2 linked regions of the Homo sapiens genome follow. The protein of the gene in region 1 interacts with the protein of each later gene in a pairwise test. Each region holds a gene or a part of one and is shown on either strand. Other genes may lie near its edges.

The links.
Region 2: the proteins of MMRN2 (region 1) and RHBDD2 interact in binary tests that used the Homo sapiens proteins (3 or more experiments, as listed by UniProt).

What each region holds. Positions count from the first base shown.
Region 1 is NC_000010.11:86,938,172-86,948,749, forward strand, and holds part of MMRN2 (multimerin-2 precursor), read right to left. Parts: intron 7,519-10,578; coding exon 7,390-7,518; intron 7,306-7,389; coding exon 7,199-7,305; intron 7,098-7,198; coding exon 7,017-7,097; intron 6,265-7,016; coding exon 6,091-6,264; intron 5,958-6,090; coding exon 4,146-5,957; intron 1-4,145. UniProt on the Homo sapiens protein: Extracellular matrix protein that plays significant roles in the vascular system and is required for the maintenance and stability of blood vessel.
Region 2 is NC_000007.14:75,881,852-75,892,429, reverse strand, and holds the end of RHBDD2 (rhomboid domain-containing protein 2), read right to left. Parts: coding exon 10,194-10,578; intron 8,733-10,193; coding exon 8,582-8,732; intron 4,439-8,581; coding exon 4,081-4,438; 3' UTR 3,504-4,080; downstream 1-3,503.

The sequences.
Region 1 (10,578 bases):
GGTCCTCCCACCTCAACCCCGCAAAGTGCTGGGATTACAGGTGTGAGCCACTGTTACTGGCCAAGCTGGTCATCTTACATATGGGTAAATTGAGGCCCAGAAAGAAAAAGCTTATTGCTCCAGACCACACAACTAGTAAATTACCAAGCCTCCTGGGAACAGACCTTGAATCTCTAGACTTCTGGTTCTCTGCAGGGACCACTTTGGCCAGCCTTAGGACAGGAACACTGACAGAACACTGGTGCCAGGCCCATGCACGGGCACAGAAGCAGAGGAAGCTGCCATGTGTGGAGGGTGTACAAACAGCCAGGAAGAAGCCAGTCCTGCTGCCTGGACAGCATGGTTGGGCAGCTGGGGACAGGGTCATGAGATGGCACAGGAAAGGTAAGTCCTACTTGGGTCCTGGCTGTGACACTGGCCTTGGCACCAACGAGGTCATGTCCACCATGGGGTTCCTCAACTTGCTCCCTCTGTAGGGGTTTAAAACAAGGTCCCCATTTCTTAGGTGATAAAACCAAAGCCTTCAGAGGAGCAGTTTGCTGAGCAATTACTGACTTGGGTCCCGGAACTCAAGCCTCAGCTCTTTGACTCCCAATCCAGCAAGCCTTTGTGAATAAAAAAATGTTGCTTTTCTCTAGTTCTGGAAGATTTTCTGAGAATTAGACAGCTGAGAATAGCTTTCTCATTTGTGTTCAGATTGTGTCAAATCAGCCGGGCGCAGTGGCTCACGCCTGTAATCCCAGCACTTTGGGAGGCCAAGGCGGGCGGATCACCTGAAGTCGGGAATTCGAGACCAGCGTGACCAACATGGAGAAATCCCATCTCTACTAAAAATACAAAATTAGCCAGGCGTGGTGGGGCATACCTGTAATCCCAGCTACTTGGGAGGCTGAGGCATGAGAATCGCTTGCACCCGGGAGGCGGAGGTTGCCGTGAGCCGAGATCACGCCGTTGCACTCCAGCCTGGGCAACGAGAGTGAAACTCCGTCAAAAAAAAAAAAAAAAAAAAATGCCGGGCGCAATGGCTCACGCCTGTAATCCCAGCACTTTGGAAGGCCGAGGTGGGCGGATCACGAGGTCAGGAGATAGAGACCAGCCTGGCCAACATGGTGAAATCCCGTCTCTACTAAAACTACAAAAATTAGCTGGGCATGGTGGCAGGCGCCTGTAATCCTAGCTACTCGGGAGGCTGAGGCAGGAGAATCGTTTGAACCCGGAAGGCGGAGGTTGCAGTGAGCCGAGATCGTGCCATTGCACTCCACCCTGAGCGAAAGGGCGAGACTCCGTCTCAAAAAAAAAAAAAAAAAAAAAAAAAAAAAAAAGATTGTGCCCAAGTCAGAGGCCGGCGGCTGCCTCTGCAATTCCCCTAACACCCTGCAGGTGGTTCTCTTGCCTAGCCGAAGGAAGGCCGGCCCGCAGCGCCCTCTACCGGTGCTAGGCCCTCGTTCCGGCCGTTCCGTCCGGGCGCCTGCGCAGGGAGTTCCGCCGCAGAGAGAGACCCCCACCCCAACCCAGCCTTGCGCCTGACAGGCCCTAAGATGCGGGAAGGGCTGTGCAAACTCAGAGTGTGCTTCCCTGCAGGGCACACATTCAAGCCCTACAGCCTTCCTACAAACAAATAAAGGGAAATTTGGGGTGTGTGTGTGTGTGTGTGTGTGTGTGTGTGTTTGTGTGTGTGTGTGTGTGTGTGTGTGTTTGAGACAGAGTCCTACTCTGCCGCCCAGGCTGGAGTGCAATGGAGCTATCTTGGCTCACAGCAACCTCTGCCTCCCAGGTTCAAGCGATTCTCCTGCCTCAGCCTTCCAGGTAGTTGGGATTACAGGTGCCTGCCACCACACCGGGCTAATTTTTTTTTTTTTTTTGACAGTTTCGCTCTTCTTGCCCAGGCTGGAGTGCAGTGGCGCAATCTCGGCTCACTGCAGCCTCTGCCTCCCGGGTTCAAGTGATTCTCCTGTCTCAGCCTCCCGAGTAGCTGGGATTAGGCGCCCGCCACCACACCCGGCTAATTTTGTATTTTTAGTAGAGATGGGGTTTCACCATGTTGGCCAGGCTGGTCTTGAACTCCTGACCTCAAGTGATCCACCCGCCTCGGCCTCCCAAACTGCTGGGATTATAGGCATGAGCCACTGCGCCCGGCCTGGAAATTTGTTTTTAAGAACAACATTTTTTTGAAATAAATATCGTCGTGGTAAACACATTTCCAAACCGTGGGGCAAATTCTGAAAGTCATCAGCATATTGAAGCCTTGCACCACGCACGAGAGGAAACAAGAGAGAAGTGTCAGTGTCGGTGGACACAACCTGAACCCTGAAAATGCTGGGGAAATGGGAAAACGTTGACTGCGTTCCTACATGAGGTAAGCCTCGTGCTAGGTATTTGGTAAACGCAGCAGTCTTCATAACAAAACTTTGACATGGGTAGGGATTCTGCCATTTTACTGAGGAAGAAACAGACAAGTGATGCCAGAGCCTGGGTGCTTCCCACTGCTCCACATTGCCTCTTGGGCCATAGGGAGGGTCAGCTGGGGCAGGGGCTGCCTGGGACGGGACCTTCAACAAGGCCTTGGACTTGCCACACGCCAGGCTGCACATGGCCAAGATGGTGGCCTTGTACTTAGCCCTGTGTCTGGGTGGGGAGAGGCCACAGCTCCAAGGCCAGCCTCTGGCAGAGAGAGTCACTTGAGACACAGAGCCTAGTTGTCCCCCTCCCGGGACCACACTCAGGGAGGGGATGGGAAGCTTGGTTGCACATGCCTTCAGCCTCAAAGCCAGCTCCCAGGCCCAGGGCCCTGCAGGGACCAGCCATGGAGGGCCTTCTGGAGGTGAAGAACCGGCACCCTAAAGACAGCGCTCCTCTGCTGCTCACTAGCTGTGCAAGCAGGAAACTTGTGTTTGCGCCTCAGTTTCAGGTAAGATGGAAGTGCTGATGAGTGTGTCATTGACCTGTTGGGATGGGCCATTGTGGTAAAGCCCAGGAAGGGGACTAGCACAGAGCGATGAGACAGGTTAACTGTATTTGCAGAGGGAATGAGCTCCTTTCAGGGCCCACGGCTTTCCCTGTACAGTCCACTGAGGTGTGTTCCAAGACCTTAGCAGGTGCCTGAAATCTCAGACAGTACCAAACCCTATATATACTATTTATTTTCCTCTATGTACATACCTATGCCAAAGTTTAACTTGTAAATTAGGCACAGTAAGAGATTGACAATAATAATAAAATATAAAGCAATTATAACAGTATACTGTAATAAAAGTTATATGAATGTGGTGTCTCCCTCTCTCAAAATCTTATTGTACTGTACTCACCTATTTTCTGATCGTGGTTGATGCAAGAAACTGAAATCAAGGCTGGGCACATGGCTCACACCTGTAATCCTAACACTTTAGGAGGCTGAGGTGGGCAGATTACTTGATCCCAGGAATTTGAGACCAGCCTGGGCACCATAGCAAGACCCTGTCTCTACAAAAAGTACAAAAATTAGCTAGGCATGGTGACACATGCCTGTAAGTCCTAGCTACTCTGGAGGCTGAAGTGGGAGGATCAGCTGAGCCTGGAGAGGTCTAGGCTGCAGTGAGCCATGATCCCACCACTGTACTCAAGCCTGGACGACAAAGTGAGACCCATCTTAAAAAAAAAAAAAAAAAGAAAAGAAAAAGAAAAAAAAAACAAAAAAAAAACTAAAATCATGGAAAATGAAACAGAACTAAGTGGGGCTGCAAGTGGCCACAGTCCCTATCCACATTCTTCCTAGATACAGTGGCTTAAACGCACATGGGAATGAAGGGGGTGAGGTGAAGAGATGAGATGGGGGGACTTGAAGGCTGCCCTGGCAGGGCAGGAGGCGATGCCCTCTCTGTAGCAGGAGCAGTAGGCGGCACTATTGTGCCTGTGGCCTCCAGGCTATGCCGCTCACGGGCTCTGGCACTAGCAGGTGGTTCTTGTGACTTCTGTCTCCCCATAAGCCAGGTAGCTTGAGAGACCCACACCCCTGAGAAGCAGGTGGGCCAAGGGGAAGGTGGACCTAGTAGGGGTGACGGATGGCCATCCTGTTCTCTTTCTTCCTGGCCCTCTTGGAGGCAGAAGAGCTGCCGGCAGCCGGCCCTGGCCTCCTAGGCTCGTCCAGTCTCCCCAGCCCAGGAACTCACCTGCCTCCCAGAGCGCCGCGCCCAAGGCACCTGGCACAGGCCCTGTGACCCGTATGTCCACCAAAGGCTCCGCTTCCTTCTTGTCCCTCTTCCGGGGAGCTTCCAGGTCTTTCTGCTGCTTCTTCCCTTTCCTGCTCAGCATGGTCTGCAGCTTCCCCAGGTCCAGGCTGACGTTGGCTTCCATGAGCCCTTGGAAGTTCCCAAAGAGGCTGTGGAAGAGCCGCTGGTGCTGCTCCAAGCTGCGCTGAGTGGCGAAGAGTGCGTTGTGGAGGCCGTGAAGGGAGGCGTTGAGGGAGGCGGCCCCGGCCCCGGCCTCGGCCTCGCAGCACCGCCCGACATTCTTGACGTCGTTGCTCAGGCTCTGGAGCTCCCGCGCCAGCCCGGCCAGGGCGGTGGTGGCGGCCTCCTCGCGGCCCGCGTCGTGGCTGGGCTCCAGGTGCTCTGCCGGCCGCGGGGGCTCCGAGGCCTGCTCCAGGGCCGTCACTCGGGCGGCCAGCTCGTCCCAGCCGAGCGCCTGCTCCTGCAGCCCGCTAGCGGCGTCCTGCAGGGCCACGCGGATCTGCTCGTAGCTCAGGGGCAGCGGTCCCGGCGTCTGCTCAGACATCTCCTCCAGCACCTCCTCCCCGAAGAGCGCGGCCAGCACCGCCTCGTGCCGCAGCGCGTCCTCCAGCAGGGCGGCGAAGGCGCTGTGCAGCTGGCGCACCTCGTGGCGGGCCTCGGCCGCGGCCGCCTTCAGCGCGCCCACCTCGTCATCCAGCGCCTGCACTTGGCTCCGGAGCCGCGACGTGGCCGCCCGCGCCCGCTCGCCCTCCGCTTTGTGCGCGTCCACGGCCAGCGACACGGCGTCCACGGCGTTCTGCAGGGCCTGCAGGGAGGAGCCGTCCAGCTGCCGCCGCTCGTCCAGGCTCACCTGGGTCTCCTCCAGGGCACGCGTGGCGTCCCTCTGGCCCTCCCGGATGACGTCCAGGTCTAAATAGAGCTTCTGGCAATTGCAGTCCTTCACGTACTTGATGAGGTCGGCATGGCCACCCTGCAGGTGCTGCAGCGTGAGGTTGAGCTCCAGGAGCTGCCGCTCCACCTCCTCCTTGTTCTCCTCCATGATCAGAGACTTCTCCATCAGGATCACGCGCAGCTCACGGAGCGCCGTGTGGTTCACCTGCAGCTCCTCCACCTGCCGCTCCACCTTGCTAATCTGATCGAAAGTCTCGTCCGATTCGGAGTACAGTTCCTTGATCTCATCCACGTGCCGGGTCAGGGTGGCCCTCATGTCCTCCAGGGTGTACTGCAACTCCTCCTCCCTGCGGGCCGTGGTCATGTGCAGCTCTGAGAGGTTCCTCTGCAGCTGGCCCAGCCTGGCCTGCAGGCTGTCCGGCTCAGGCCTTGCCCCAGCCCCAGGCGTTGCCAACACCAGACTGCCATTGGTCCCTGGGGCCTCCTGAGCCTTGTGCAGCCTCTTCAATTTGGTGTCCACATCGGCTTGGAGCTCTGAGATCGAGCGGTGCAGGGTAAAGTGCTGGGCGTGCAGGCGGTCCTCCACGTCCTGTCGCAGCTGACCCACTCTCTGAGTGTTCTCCTGGACCTTGGCCTCAAATTTGGCACCAAGCTCCTGGAAGTCAGCCCTGGCCACGGCACTGTCCTGGACTCTGGAGATGGCCTGGCGGTTGGCCTCCACGTCAAGAGACAGGTTTCTTATGGCCTGGGTAAGGCTGTGCAGGCTTTGGTTAAAGCTCCTCCAGATGGGGCTGAAATGCACTTGTAGGAAGGTGTCCACGTGGGGTAGCAGCACCTGCTCCAAGGATCTATCAGGGAACTCTGCAACAGACATGTGGTGTGACACAAGCCCTGCAGGAGCAGACACTCCTCCCAGGCTGGGACCAGCGGGGTCCTCCCCTCCTCCCCTCAATGTGACCAGGCTCTTCCTCAGCCCCTAGAGCCTGCCACTCACCGTGCCCTGTTTGATTTGCTTCCATCACTGCAGCTGTGAGGTTACCAGGCAGGGCTTTCCACAGGCCTGGCAGGCTGTCTGCCACCCGGTGCACATCATTCTGGAGATCTCCCAGCAGATGTTCCTGCTGTTCCTGTTGCACCTCAACCTCATTGATCACTGCAGCAAGGTGGCCTAAATACACAGCAGACATAAATGTCAAGGGCTAACTCACCAGGCCTGGGAAGATCACAAGGTTCAGAGAAGGAGAGTTGAAGGCTGAGAGCAGGGAAGTTAGCTGCTGATGTCCTCTGAGCAGGAGCTTAGAAGCCTTAAACCCCTGGAGGGCAAATGCATAGCAAGTGAGCCCTCACCCTGCCTCCTACACCTACAGCAGACATGACTAATCAATCATGGTACACTCCCCTCCTCAGCACATGCACATGGCCTCACAACTTCATTCTTGGCAGCCCTTGTCAATAAATACTTCACCACATAATGAAACTCATTTACTTTCTCAATCTTGGGCCCAGCCTTAAAGGGCCCTGCTGCAAATGGTGTCTCTTGGTGGGTTTCCTGTGCTGACTCCAAGACCAAGGACAGCATGACTTCCTGGCTCTGGTTAGGGCTGTGGGAAAGGGTGAGAATGCTTTTTCCAGGCACAAGGGCTTGTGTGGTTCAGCGGGGCAAGGAAAGTGCCAGATGAACCAGTCCTTCCCAGAAGATGGGGTGAAGGAAAAGGGTGTGTGTGCTTGGCCAGTAGGCCGCTGGGGGCCCTGTGAGCCTGGCCTTCAAGGTGGGAGGTGGTACAGGCCACAGAGCAGGCCTTGCTGATTCTGGAGGCAAGGTTTCCCTGAAATGGCACTGCTGTATCACAGGAAAAAGGGCCAGCTGGCTACATGGGCCCCACCAGCCTGCCTGCCTTCCCCTTCCGGAAAGCAACACACCAGGTTTGAAGCTGACTGGTCCATCCTGAGGTTCCTGGTGGCTGTCACCAGGATCTGCAGGCTCAGGGATTGCCATGGAATCTGCAGAAGAAAGCATTAGTTATTGACCCCAGTGGTCAGAGGAGCTGCTTGACCTTGGGGATCAGAGGTCAAGGGGGGAAGGGGGCCGCAGGGAGCCCTACCGTGGTGCTCGCAGTTGGGGCCCGTGTAGCCAGGGCAGCACCTCCAGGCCAAAGAGGTCAGCACCTTCTGCTTGACCTGGTACACTGGCTTGTGGGCCATGCGGTACCTGGAAGAGGAGAAGGGCTGGCTCAGTGATTCCAGGGAGGGCCCGCTCCAGGCCTGGGCAAATGGCCCACCCTCCCCTACTCACATGACTTTGACTTTCTGGCAGTCTGGAGCTCCCTGCGGACACGGCTGCTGCGAGTGGATGAGGAATTTCTCTGTTTTGCAAAGAGCTAGTAAGGTGACCAGCTTGGACATTGGGTAGGGGCACCAGTTACTGGAAAACAAGCCAGAGGAGAAGGCTGCTGAGCCACACCCAGGTCAACAGGGGGTGCCAGTGCAGAGCCACCGGTCCTCGCCTCCTGCCGGAGCAGTGCTGGGATTCTGGAATCCATTATCCTGAGAAGAGAGCCTTCCGCATTATTCATCCCTGGGCTCCAGAGCAAATGTTTCACAATCCCTACCTGCAAAGAGGGCACCTGCTCCACCACCTTCCCGAAGCCTCCCCGAGCCAGCAGAGAGGCTGAGAAACCCACCACAATCTAGAACTGTGAAAAGCAGCTCCAGGGTGATGATTGTTTTAGCCAACAAAACTAACAGCCAGAGTGTGGGGAAAACACCGTGTGCACTGCAGCTGTCTGCATGGATTCCCTTTGGTGAGGTTAGCCACAGAGCCAGAAAGCTCTCGCTGTTTCTCCTGCTACCAACGTGCAGCTGGGGCTGGAGAATCCTGGGTTCGAATCCCTCACACTTTCTGGCTGTGTGACCCTGAGTGAGGCACTTAGGGAGCTTCTCTTTCCCCATCTATACAATGGCGATCGTAATGCCCTCCTTTAAGTGGGCAGAGAAGCACCAGGTGCCTGGCTCCTGACAAGCGTTCTGTGAACACAGCTCCACTGCCCCATTCCAGCTGCCCTGGCAGCCTGCCCAGTTGCTACTTACATGAGGGACCAGCTCCCTGGCCATGCCCATTAGGACCATTCTAGAAAGGGACTTTCAAACAGTTGTCCTAAGGAAAGGTAAGCAGCTGGGTGGAGCAGTGTCCTCTCTGGGATGGCCACCGCATCAAGGTCATGCAAGGTGGTTGGGGGTCACACTCAGCATCCCGCACACCTGATAGGTAGCCCTTCCATCCTGGCCCTTCACCAGCATGTACTGTGGTGGTCCCAGGAGCGGGGGGACACTCATGCTGACAGAGCCCCAGTTCACAGACCCAGTGGCTGACTCCATGGGGTCAGTGGCAGTGGTCAGAGAGCCCTTCCCCAGGCAGCCAGCTCCCAGAACAGAGCTCGTCAGAGTTGAAAGTGGCAATGATCTCTGTGGCACAGTACAGCTCAGCACCTCTTGGGTGCCGGGTGCTGCACTCAAGCTCAGGGTGTGGATGTGGAGGTGCAGACTTTCCCTTCAGGATCCCCAGGGAGAGCGGGCACTCTTAGAATGGGTGAGAAGTGCTAGGATCTGCAGAGACTTTCAGGAGAAGGAGCTAATGGGGCTGTGTCTTAAGGCCAGAAAGTCGGATGAGGCACCAGATGTGACAGGGGTGCAAGAGGGTGAGGAAGGGGCTGCAGAAGGAGGCTGGGATGAAGGGAGAAGCCAGACCTCAGCGGAGGAGCTGGCCCATGTCCTGAGGGCATGGGAAATCATGGAGGGGTTTCAGCAGGGAAGTGGCATGAAAGAGCCACCCTGGTCCCTGGGTGCAGAGATGATGGGAGGGCAAGACGTTGGCAGCTGTGTCCACGGTCTGGGGAGAGATGATGGCAACTTGGACTGAGTGATGGTGGACATGGGAGAAGTGGCCACATTTGTGGGCTCTTAGAAAGCAGCATTCAGAGGCCTTGGTGATGAAGTGGCTGTCAGTGCCGGGATTTTATTCTCTGGAGCCGGTCTTTGTCCTGGGGCCATCAAGCACTGTCACACAGGGGATAGTGTTGGGAAAGGCAGGGGCGGGGGATTCGAGTGACTTTTTTTTTTTTGAGACGGAGTCTCGCACTGTCGCTTGGGCTGGAGTGCAGTGGTGCAATCTCGGCTTGCTGCAACCTCCACCTCCCAGGTTCAAGCGATTCTCCTTGCCTCAGCCTCCCAAGTGGGCTGGGATTACAGGTGCCCACCACCAAGCCTGGCTAATTTTTTTTGTATTTTTAGTAGAGACGGGGTTTCACTATGTTGGCCAGGCTGGTCTTAAACTCCTGACCTCGTGATCCACCTGCCTCAGCCTCCCAAAGTGCTGGGATTACAGGCGTGAGCCACTGTACCCAGCCGAGTGACCATATTTTGAGTGCTGAGTCCCCAGCCTGCTTTACCCTCTCAGCAGCAGACTGGAAAAGTTTCTCAGGAAAATAAGCCAGCCCGAGAGGAAAAGACCCAAAGCTGCTGACAGCAGGGGTTCTCCCATAAAAATAGCCAACCAGAAGATCCTATGACAAAATGGGTAAGAAAGGAGTATTCATACACCCCAGCTTCCAGTCAGTTTCTCAGTCTTTCTCCTCTTAAGTGAGCAGACATCCAAGATTTACCCAAGAAACACTGTATTCCAAAAGAGGGCCAGGTACAGTGGCGCACGCCTGTAACCCCAGCACTTTGGGAGGCTGAGGTGGGAGGATCCTTGGAGCCCAGGAGTTTGAGTCCAGCCTGTGCAACGTAGTGAGACCTCATCCCTACAAAAAATTAGCCAGGTGTGGTGGCGCATGCCTGTAGTCCCAGCTATTCAGGAGGCTGAGGTAGGAGGATTGCTTGAGCCCAGAAGTTTGAGGCTGCAGTGAGCCATGATTATGCCACTACACTTCAGCCTGGGTGCACAGCAAAACCCTATCTCAAAAAAAAAAAAAAAAAAAGAGGTTGAAGTGGGCAAACAAAAAAATGTCAACCTGGACAAAAACTAAGACTGTGTAAGGAGAAGAGAACCACTCAAACATTTGTACTAAGATTTCCAGGTTGATAAAAGAAATTACTGCACCCAAGAAACAAGACCAGGAAGCTATGAAAAAAACAAATGAGGGGGAGATGGGAGAGGAAGCGTGAGCATTCAGAAAACAAAAAGGAACTCTTGGAAATTAAAAACGTAACAGTAAAAATGAAAATAAATTTAATGGAAACGTTAGAGGGTAAAGTTAAAGAAATTTCCCTAAAAGAGCAAACAGAGAGATGAAAATTGGAAAGAGAAAAGAAAAATAGACGACCAGTCTTGCAAATGTAACATCCAAGTAGTACAAATTTCAGAAAGAGAGAACAGATGGAGAAAATCATCAATGAAAAAAAATCAGGCCGGGCATGGTGGCTCATGCCTGTAATCCCAGTATTTTGGGAGGTTGAGGCAGGAGGATCACTTGAGCTCAGGAGT
Region 2 (10,578 bases), on another chromosome or scaffold:
CAGCCCTTGAGGCCAGCAGAGACCTTGCCTGGGTCCTACAGGACTGGCTGCTTCTCCCAGAACTGGTACCTCCTGGCATTACCGTGGGTTTCTGTCTCCCTTAGAGACTGTGCTGGGACCAGGTCTTAGTCACCTCTGTGTCCCCAGCCCCTGGGATAAGGCCAGAATGTAGTACATGCTCAGTAATTATTTGATGAGAGAATGAATGAGTGAGCGAATGAATGAATGCGTGAAAGGGTGAGGGAGGGGGTGACCAGGACTCAGGCTCCTGGGATCTGTGGCCTTTGGCTGTGAGTTCCCCATTAGGCCAGGCAGACAGGTCATCAGGACGCAGAGCACCAAGCAATAAGCATGGGTGGGGCCTCCCAAGCCCACGCTGTCCTTGTGCAGATGTCCAGGGCAACAAACATTTATTGAGCACCTGCTGTTTGCATCACCCGTGCCATGCTCCTGCAGCCACTTTGTCATGTTGGGTGGGCGTGCTTGGCCCATTCCCTCCTGGCTCTCTGTTCTCCCTGTCCACCTGGAAGCTCTTCACCTGCTTCTCTTCTTGGATTCCTTCAGGTCTCAGCAGAAATGTCACCTTCCCAGGGAGGCCATCCTTGACCACTGGATTTACAGTTGCTGCTCTTTTTTTTTTTTTCTGTGACAGAGTCTCACTCTGTTGCCCAGGCTGGAGTGCAGTGGTGCGATCTCAGCTCACTGCAACCTCCACCTCCTGGATTCGAGTGATTCTCCCGCCTCAGCCTCGCGGGTAGCTGGGACTAGAGGCGCCCGCCACCACGCCCGGCTAATTTTTTTTTTTTTTTTTTTTAGTAGAGATGGTTTTTCACTATGTTGACCAGACTGGTCTTGAACTCCTGACCTCAAGTGATCTGCCCGCCTCAGCCTCCCAAAGTGTGGGATTACAGGCGTGAGCCACTGTGCCCGGCATGTTCTTTAAATGAAAGAATGATTCAGTAAACAGATGGGCGTGTGAAGGAATGACATAGCTCAACCCACGGCTCCCACAGCCTTTATCTTGCCTTGTAATTACCTGCAAATCAACTTCCTACACGGTACTCAGTTCCTTAGAGCAGGGGTTCGCAACCTCAGGGACCACCAACTGGCACCAGTCTACCCATCTGTCACTGTCTCCCATCACCCCCAGATGGGACCCTCTAGTTGCAGGAAAACAAGCTCAGGGCTCCCACTGATTCTGCATTATGGTGAGTTGTATAATTATTTCATTGTATATTAACAATGTAATAATAAAGTGCACAATAAATGGAATGCACTTGAATCATCCTGAAACCATCCCCATACCTGTCTGTGGAAAAATTATCTTCCACGAAACCGGTCCCTGGTGCCAAAAAAGTTGGGGACCACTGCCTTAGAGTATAAGGGCAAGCCTTTCTTCTGATGTCCGCGCTGAGGAGCAGAGCCTACCTGAGGTTTGCAGAGCGAGCAGGGCATGAATCTGCTTCTCTGCTGCCCTCCGCCAACCGAGCAGGGAAACTGATAATGTCTGGAAGCTTCTCTGGCCGCTGTGGGTCCTGCCCTGTCTGGGGATGGGAGGGGAGGGGTTTCCAGCATGTTGGGGGTAATGCTTTCACTTATGCTTAATGAGCTGTGCTCTCCATCCTCCTAACAGCCAGAGGACATGGTTAGTACCCTCCCACCCTCCCTCCACAGCCCCCCTCTCTTTCCATGGAAGGGTTGGTCCTCAGGATCCTGCTGATCCCCAGCTTGTCAGGCCATGCTGGGCTGGGGGCCTCCTCTGCGCCCCTGAAGTGCTGCTTCGCCCCATCACAGCTTTGCAGGGCACTGAATGACAAATGTTTTTTTTTGAGAGGGAGTCTTGCTCTGTCACCCAGGCTGGAGTGCAGTGGTGTGACCTCAGTTTGCTGCAACCTCTGCCTCCTGGGTTCAAGCAATTCTCTTGCCTTGGCCTCCCGAGTAGCTGGGACTACAGGCGTGTGCCACCATGCTCAGCTAATTTTTTTTTTTGAGATGGAGTCTCACTCTGTCACTCAGGCTGGAGTGCAGTGGCATGATCTCGGCTCACTGCAACCTCCGCCTCCCTGCCTCAGCCTCCCGGATAGCTGTGATTACAGGCGCCCACCACCACGCCCGGCTAATTTTTGTAAATAGAGACAGGGTTTCACCATCTTAGCCAGGCTGGTCTTGAATTCCTGACCTCGTAATCCACCAGCCTTGGCCTCCCAAAGTGCTAGGATTACAGATGTGAGCCACTGCGCCCGGCCAATTTTTGCATTTTTAGTAGAGATGGGATTTCACCATGTTGGCCAGGCTGGTCTTGAACTCCTGACCTCAAGCGATCCGCCCACCCAGACCTCCCAAAGTGCTGGAATGACAGGCGTGAGTCACTGAGCCCGGCCTGAATGATAATTATTTTCCATTTCTTCTGCTCCAATGAGCTCCCCAAGGGCGGGCATCACCTATTCATCCGTTCATTCCACTCATATTTATTGAGTGCCAGGCCCCATGCTAGGGGCTCCCTGCGCACATGGGGCTCATCATCATTGAGCCTCCGGCTTGGCACAGAATCAGTGAATGGTTTCCGGACATGGGCATATTAGTGGATGATTTGACAGGCAAATGGGAGAAGGGGTTGGGATGGCCTCCAGAGCTTCCAAAATGCACGTGAGGGTGAGAAAGGGTCCCACTGTGAGCTGACTCCAGGCTGTGTTGTGCATTGTGGCCAGACTAAGGAAAAGTCCCAAGGAACAAAGAGATTTAAAAACCAGGGCCACACACAGTGGCACACCCTCTCACCCCAGCGCAGGCCCCTTCTTGCTCATGTCTGAGGCCCCCCCAGGCGTGGGCCCGTCACGGCCCCACCCTCACCAGGCTGGATGGGCTTGGGGTTCTGTCTTATACATGTCCAAAGACCTAAAACCTATCAGAAAGCCAGTCTAGAATGGGCCATCCAGCTCCTGGGATAAATGAAGGCCACGTGTTACTAGGTCCACAAAACACCAGGCAGCTGGCATGCCTTCTCAACACAGCCTGCCGTGAGGAGCCCCAGCTGTCCTCAAGGGCTGGCCAGGTGAGTGACAGCTCAGCCACACTCATCAGTGCCCTGCACTGTCTCATAGAGGCCCCCCGCCCCTCACTCCTGGTTCCTGGTCAACATGGCCAACAGGAGACACTGGTGGTAAAGCCAGCGTCTTCTCCCGTCTTGCTTCAGGGACATCGCCAGCAGTGCCCATGTCCTTCTTGGCACAGCCCTGCCAGCAGCCCTCCTAACTGTAGTCCCAGCTTCTGGGCTCTGGCAACACCCCTCTCTCTCAGGGCAGCAGTGGCTCCTGCTGGTACCCATCTCAGTTGCCTGCTCCCCACGAGACCCCCATTCCTGACCCACTGGGCCCTGGTCACCTGCCTGACCTGGCCCTGGTGCATCTCTCCTCTCTGCCGCCACACCACACATTGCCACTGCCCAGATCTCAGCGCACTCCCTCTTCCCCAGCCAGACCACAAAGGAAGCACACGCCAGCACGGCAGGTCAGAGGCTGTTTCTTTATACAAAGGCAGACAACATGGACACCTCAGCATGCTGCTGCAGTTCATGGGGGCCCATCCCACCGCTTCTGGGGAGAGGAATCGGGGTGGGGGCGCCCGCAGCAGGGGAGAGACACTACACAGGCCTGGGACCGCCAAGCACACCAGCTGCGAGCTCCTGAAGGGCAGACACATGGACACACGGACACTGAAACCACGAGCACGGCACAGCCACAGGGAGGAATGGTGGAGCTGGGGACAGACATCGGCAGCTACTGCCAACTGCTGCCCTCTTCTGCCACGAGTTCCTTGGCGAGGAGCCTTGTCCGTGTTACTAAAGAGCCACGTGACTTTATCTGATGGCAGAACGTCTCGCTTTCTGCATCTGTAAGCTGGGCCAGTACACCGTACTCCACAGGGCTGCCGTGAGTACAGATGAGACTGAAACAGGGGCATTGATCAAAGTACCCAACACAGAGCCTGGCACATAGAGGTGTTCAATAAGTAACTTTTGTCAGGAGACTCTTAGGGAGGACCTTCAGAAGGCCAAGTGAGATGACTTCCCTAGAAATTCTCTCAGGGCATGGGGACCCTGGAGGACTCCTTGGAGCCTGCAGCCCCTGGTGTGCCCAAGGCCCCAGAATACACCGTGCCAGGGCTGTTCACAGGCGTGGGGGGCTGGATGCCCAGGGAGGTGCCCGCAGAAGCTGGGTAGACACTGGAGGAGGTGGGGTTTGGACCAAAGTGGTTCTGCACATAGCACAGGCCGGAGGCAGGCTGGTACGGAGGCAAGGTGGGCATGTGCCCGGGGGTGCAGGAGGGCCAGGAGGCCAGCTTCTGACCACTGGCGTGCTGCGTCTGGGACACAGGGTGGCTTGGGGACAGGTGAGGGTGGCAGCTCTGTGTGGGGTAGGAGCCAGGCACCGGGTTCAGTCTGGAATGGAACAAGAGAGAAAATGGTCCTTCAGCGAGTCTTGGCAAGGTCATGGCATCTTGTGCTTGAGGTTGCCCCCGCTTTCTAGTACAACATGCCTTGGATGTTTTCTGTGACTTGCTCTAAGTACCAAGTGGGAGAAAGGTTAACCTCAACCAATCAGACCACAGATGCCCAGGGAGGGTGGGGCCAGTTGCAGTCCTGCAGCAAGGGAGTTGTATGAAAGGACACTGGACCTGCCACTGAGACCACCGGAGGGGTGACCTGCTCACAGCAGCTTCTAAACCAGATGGAGCGTTGGGACCAGGTCACAGCTGCCAGTGCCTGTGTGGCTGGCTCGACAATTCTGCCCAAAGAGAACGGATTCAGGCTGGGCATGGTGGCTCACACCTGCAATCCCAGCACTTTGGGAGGCCAAGGCGGGTGGATCATCTGAGGTCAGGAGTTCGAGACTAGCCTGGCCAACATGATGAAACCCGGTCTCTACTAAAAATTAAAAAAAAAAAATTAGCCAGGTGTGGTGGCAGGCGCCTGTAGTCCCAGCTACTCAGAAGGCTGAGGCAGGAGAATCGCTTGAACCTGGGAGGCAGAGGTTGCAGTGAGCCAAGATTGTGCCACTGCACTCCAGCCTGGGTGACAGAGCAAGACTCTGTCTCAAAAAAAAAAATTGTTTTTTTTTTTTTTTAATTAGCCAGGTCTGGTGGCATATGCTTCTAGTCCCAGGTACTTAAGAGGCTGAGGTAGGAGGACTGCTTAAACCCAGAAGTTTGAGGCTGCAGTGAGTTATGACTGTGCCACTGCACTCCAGCCTAGGCAACAGAGCAAGACCATGTGTAAAAAAAAAAAAAAAAAAAAAATTATCTATCAACAAGAGCCTCTGAGGAGACAAGCTGTCCAAACGGCCATCTTGCTGACAAAATAAACATGCGTGTCATGACATGGCCCTGGACCCACTGTCAGGCTGCCTGAAACACAATATTCTGAGTGTCTGCAGCAGGCACCAGACCTGAGGGACTGGACTCCATGTCACGTGGGGAACACAGAAGGAACACCATCTTCCTCTTAAACCCTAAGATCTGCCTGTCACAGTGAGGCAGGATCAGACCTGGCACTGGGTGTGGCAGTGTCTGTGAGGCTGATTGCAATTCAGCATGGAAGAACTCTTTTTTTTTTTTTTTGAGACGGAGTCTCGCTCTTTTGCCCAGGCTGGAGTGCAGTGGCGCGATCTCGGCTCACTGCAAGCTCCACCTCCCAGGTTCACACCATTCTCCTGGCTCAGCCTCCCGAGTAGCTGGGACTACAGGTGCCCACCACCGCACATGGCCAATTTTTTGTATTTTTAGTAGAGATGGGGTTTCACCGTGTTAGCCAGGATGGTCTCGATCTCCTGATCTCGTGATCCACCCGCATCAGCCTCCCAAAGTGCTGGGATTACAGGTGTGAGCCACCGCGCCCGGCCCTTCAGCATGGAAGAACTTTCTCATCAGGGCCAGTCTTGGAGAGTGAGCTCTTGTATGTGAGATACAGCTGGAGACCACCATCAGCTATTACAGAGGGGATTCCTTGGTGACAGACAGTTCTCCAGATTCAATGAGAACAACTAAAACCCACAAAACACCTAGTCCTAAATGTACAGTCTCCCCCACATTGAGACCCCAGGAATTACTTGCCTGAAGCAATAATGCGGTGAGTCCGCATTTCTGTTTTCCCAGCAGCCCTCCTGGCCTTTTAGAAAAATAGTCCAAGGGCTCTGAGCTGTTGACAGCTGGGAGCACCTCTTGGAAGAAGCTCTAAGGGCAGCTTCCTATTCAACAAAAACCCCACATCCAGGCCAGCGTGCAGGGGAAAATTTACTCCACAGCTGGTGGCGGGCCAAAAAGGGCCAAGGACCAAGCACCTTGCCTTCTGATACACTTTGGATGTTTCCTCTGCTCCAAATCATGTGCTGAAATGGATCTTTAGCCGGGTATAGTGGCACGCGCCTATAATTCCAAGTACTTGGGAGGCTGAGACAGGAGAATCACTTGAACCCAGGAGGTGGAGGTTGCAGTGAGCTGAGATCACGCCACTGCACTCCAGCCTGGGCCACAGAGTGAGACTCCATTTCAAAAAAAAAGAAACGTGATTCCCAGTGTTCCAGCACTAGAGGTGGAGCTCAGTGGGAGGCGTCTGGGTCACGGGGGCAGACCTTGCGTGAGTGGCTTGGCTTCTTCCCCGTAGTAATGAGTTCTCCCTCTGAGTTTAGGTAAGAGCTGGGTGTTTAAGAGCCCAGCACCTCCCTCCCTCTCTCAATGTGTGGTGCCGCCTCCCCTTGCCCTATGATTGGAAGCTGCCTGAGGCCGGTGCCATGATCCTAGTGTAGCCTACGAAGCCATGAGCCAAATAAACCTCTTTTCTTATAAATGACCCAGGCTCAGGTATTTCTTTATAGCAATACAAAATGGATGAACACGCCTTTCCCAGCGAGCTCCTTTTTTGGGGGGAGGACCACTGAAGGAAAGAAAAAATCCTACACTGTGAGGTCTCAGCATGGACAGAAACCAGCGGAGAACTCAGAGGCAGGAGGCACTGGGAACAGGGGAGAGGGAGGGAGGTGGCCTCCTAAGCAGGGGACGTGCTTCCAGATGGCCCCTCTCCTGACTCTGTTACCTGGAAACAGAGTGGGTGAGAAAGACCCTTGTCTTCTTTGGGCCTCCTCTATAAAATGAAGCAGCCAGGCCACACAAGCTCTGGCGGCTTACCAGCACTTTCCATCTGTGAGTTAATCAGCCAACTGGAAAACAGTAAACCTCACCAGAAAACCTGGGCTGGGCCACCTCCTAAGCAGCCTAGTTGGCTGTGTGGACTGTCTGCACCTTTTTTTTTTTTTTTTTCTTGGGAGACAGTGTCTTGCTCTGTCAACCAGGCTGGAGTGCTGTGGTGTGATCTCGGTGCACTGCAACCTCCACCTCCCAGGTTCGAGTGATTCTCCTGCCTCAGCCTCCTGAGTAGCTGGGATTACAGGCAACCACCACCACGCTTGGATAATTTTTGTATTTTTAGCAGAGATGGGGTTTCATCACGTTGGCCAGGCTCGTCTCAAATTCCTGACCTTATATGATCTGCCCACCTTGGCCTCCCAAAGTGCTGGGATTACAGGCGTGAGCCATCGCACCCAGCCCTATCTGCACTTATCGAGGCTATTGTGTGTCACAGCCCAGGCTGACCTGCAGCAGGTATGTGTCTAATGTCAATTAGATGGGGGCCCTCCTGCCCAGCCTATCTACAAGTCACTCAGGATCACATGTTAAGTGTCCTCAAATGCCTTCCCTTTCCTGCTGTTGCTACTTCAGAAGCAGTTGTGCAGAATCCAGAATGCTCAGAAGACATCTGTGCATTATTTTCCAATCTGCCGCACCTCATTTCTTTATCACTTACGGCAATAAACCAGCCACACCCTCTGCATGCCCTGGAGTTGCTTTAATAATAAGGTTAGGCCAGGCTCAGTGGCTCACACCTGTAATCCCAGTACTTTGAGAAATCAAGGAAGGATGGATTGAGACCAGGAGTTTGAGACCAGCCTTGGTAACACAGTGGAGACCCTGTCCCTACAAAAAATTTAAGTTAGCTAGGCATGATGGTATGTGCCTGTAGTCTCAGTTACTTGGGAGGCTGAGGTGGGAGGATCACTTGAGTCCACGAGTGTGAGGCTGTAGCGGGCTATGATCATACCACTGCAATCCAGCCTGGGCAACAGGGCAAGACCCTGTCCTCAAATAAAAAAAAGAATAAAAAAACAGAATAAGATTTGACAGCATTTGGCCGGGGGCAGTGGCTCACGCCTGTAATCCCAGCACTTTGGGAGGCCGAGGCAGGTAAATCACAAGGTCAGGAGTTCGAGACCAGCCTGGCCAACATGGTGAAACCCCATCTCTACTAAAAATACAAAAAAATTAGCTGGATGTAGTGGTGGGCACCTGTAATCCCAGACACTGAGGAGACTGAGGCAGAAGAATCACTTGAACCTGAAGCAGAGGTTGCAGTGAGCCGAGATTGTGCCACTGCACTACAGCCTGGGTGACAGAGTGAGACTCCGTCTCAAAAAAAAAAAATAATTTTTTTTTTAAAAAAGATTTAACAGCACTTAAGAGTTCTGTCACTTACTTCCGGCTCTGGGCTGCCCTCCTCTCGGCTGAAGACCCTGAGACGTACTTGAACACGGATATCCTCCTCATCAGGCTGAAGGGGAAGGTCTGATCGAGCTTCAGTGCCACTCGCTCTGAGAGGTCGATGGAATAGCAGTAGGTGAGGCCATCTGAGGTTGGCGTGTTAAGTGAAACTGGAGGCAGCAAAGGGAGGAGGGCCGAACACTCCCCGGGGAGAACACAGGTTCCCACTCACTCTACAGAAGCCTTCATGCTTAGCACGCTGCACACTCTGGCTGGAGTTTGCAGCTCAGGGGAAACCCAGAGCCAAAGGTTTGTTTTTTTTTTTGAGATGGAGTCTCACTCTAGCAGCCCAGGCTGGAGTGCAGTGGTGTGATCTTGGCTCACTGCAAGCTCCGCCTCCCAGATCACACCATTCTCCTGCCTCAGCCTCCAGAGTAGCTGGGACTACAGGTGCCCGTCACCACACCCAGCTAATTTTTGTATTTTCAGTAGAGACAGTGTTTCACCATATTGGCTAGGCTGGTCTTAAACTCCTGACCTCGTGATCTGCCTGCCTCAGCCTCCCAAAGTGCTAGTATTACAGGCGTGAGCCACTGCGCCTGACCCCAGAGCCAAAGGTTTCTACTCACTGTGCCTCACCGGGAATGAATGCGCCCAGCAGCAGGGGGTATTAATGCTGTCCCTTCTCCTACACCCATGTGTGCCACCACTTGCACCCTTCTAGCCACTGCAGTCAGTCAGAAGCCAGGACATGCCTCTGCTGGTGTAGCAGGATAAGGCAGGAGGCTGTACCAGTATCATCCTGAGGGACTAACACCTCGTCCTTTTATCTCAAATAGAGGGCACCTGCCTCAGTGCGACCATGTGAGCTTCATGTGGGCCTCTCTGGCTGTGCTTCCTCCATACCCTGTCACCATCCCCAGCAACTTGGTGGTATCCTGGTCGTCTGACCTAAGTCACCCACCACTGATTAGGCAGCCACAAAGATTCAGCCTTTGAATAAAGGCTATGCTAGACTCTCCCGAAAAGAGCTTAGAAACAAACCTCAAGTTTCAAGCCAATCTTCAAGTAAGTTAACCGCCTATCAGAACAAAAGTCAACATTTTTTAAAGGAAAACAACAAAATCTAGAGCCCCTAATACAGCATTCAGTGTCTAGCATAAAATAAAAAATTACCAGATATGAAAAAAAAAGTAAAAAAAAATTATGATCAGATATGACTCGGCCACGGTGGCTCACACCTGTAATCCTAGCACTTTGGGAGGCCACGGTGGGTAGATCACCTGAGACCAGGAGTTCAAGACCAGCCTGGGCAACATGGTGAAACCCTGTGTCTACTAAAAAGAAAATATAAAAATTAGCCGGGTGTAGTGGTGCACACCTGTAGTCCCAGCTACTCAGGGGGCTGAGGCAGGATTGCTTGAGCCCAGGAGGCAGAGGTTGCAGTGAGTTGAGATCCTGCCACTGCACTCCAGCCTGGGTGACAGAGACTCTGTTTCGAAAAAATACAAAGTAAGCCCAATTTTATCTACTTGACACCCCAGACCCTCCAGCCTGGTTCACCCTTTGACATGCGTTGTTCTATAGCTCTCTGCTAGGAAGGATACAGGCCAGCCCGATGGACAGCCCGCAGACATTACTGAGGAAAGAGGTCTGGGGAATGAGCCACGAGGCACCCAGCAGGAGCCACGGAACCAGGACTGAGGGCACAACCATGCCAAACACCAGGGCCCGCCTCATCCGAGAACGGACGGTGGTGACTCCCAGCATGGCAAAGGCCACTGGGGTGAAACCTCTGGCATCCTCCACTTCCCCCAGCTTTGACAGTGATGACACAGCCTCGAATGACAGGAAGATGATAGCGGAGAAGATGGCGAAGATCACGGTGAAGAAGCAGTGGCGGACGGTGCCCACGGTTCTCTCGAAATTGCCAGCAAAGCGCCAGATGATGATAGCGCCGCAGAGCAGGGAGATGGGATTCTCGTAGACAAA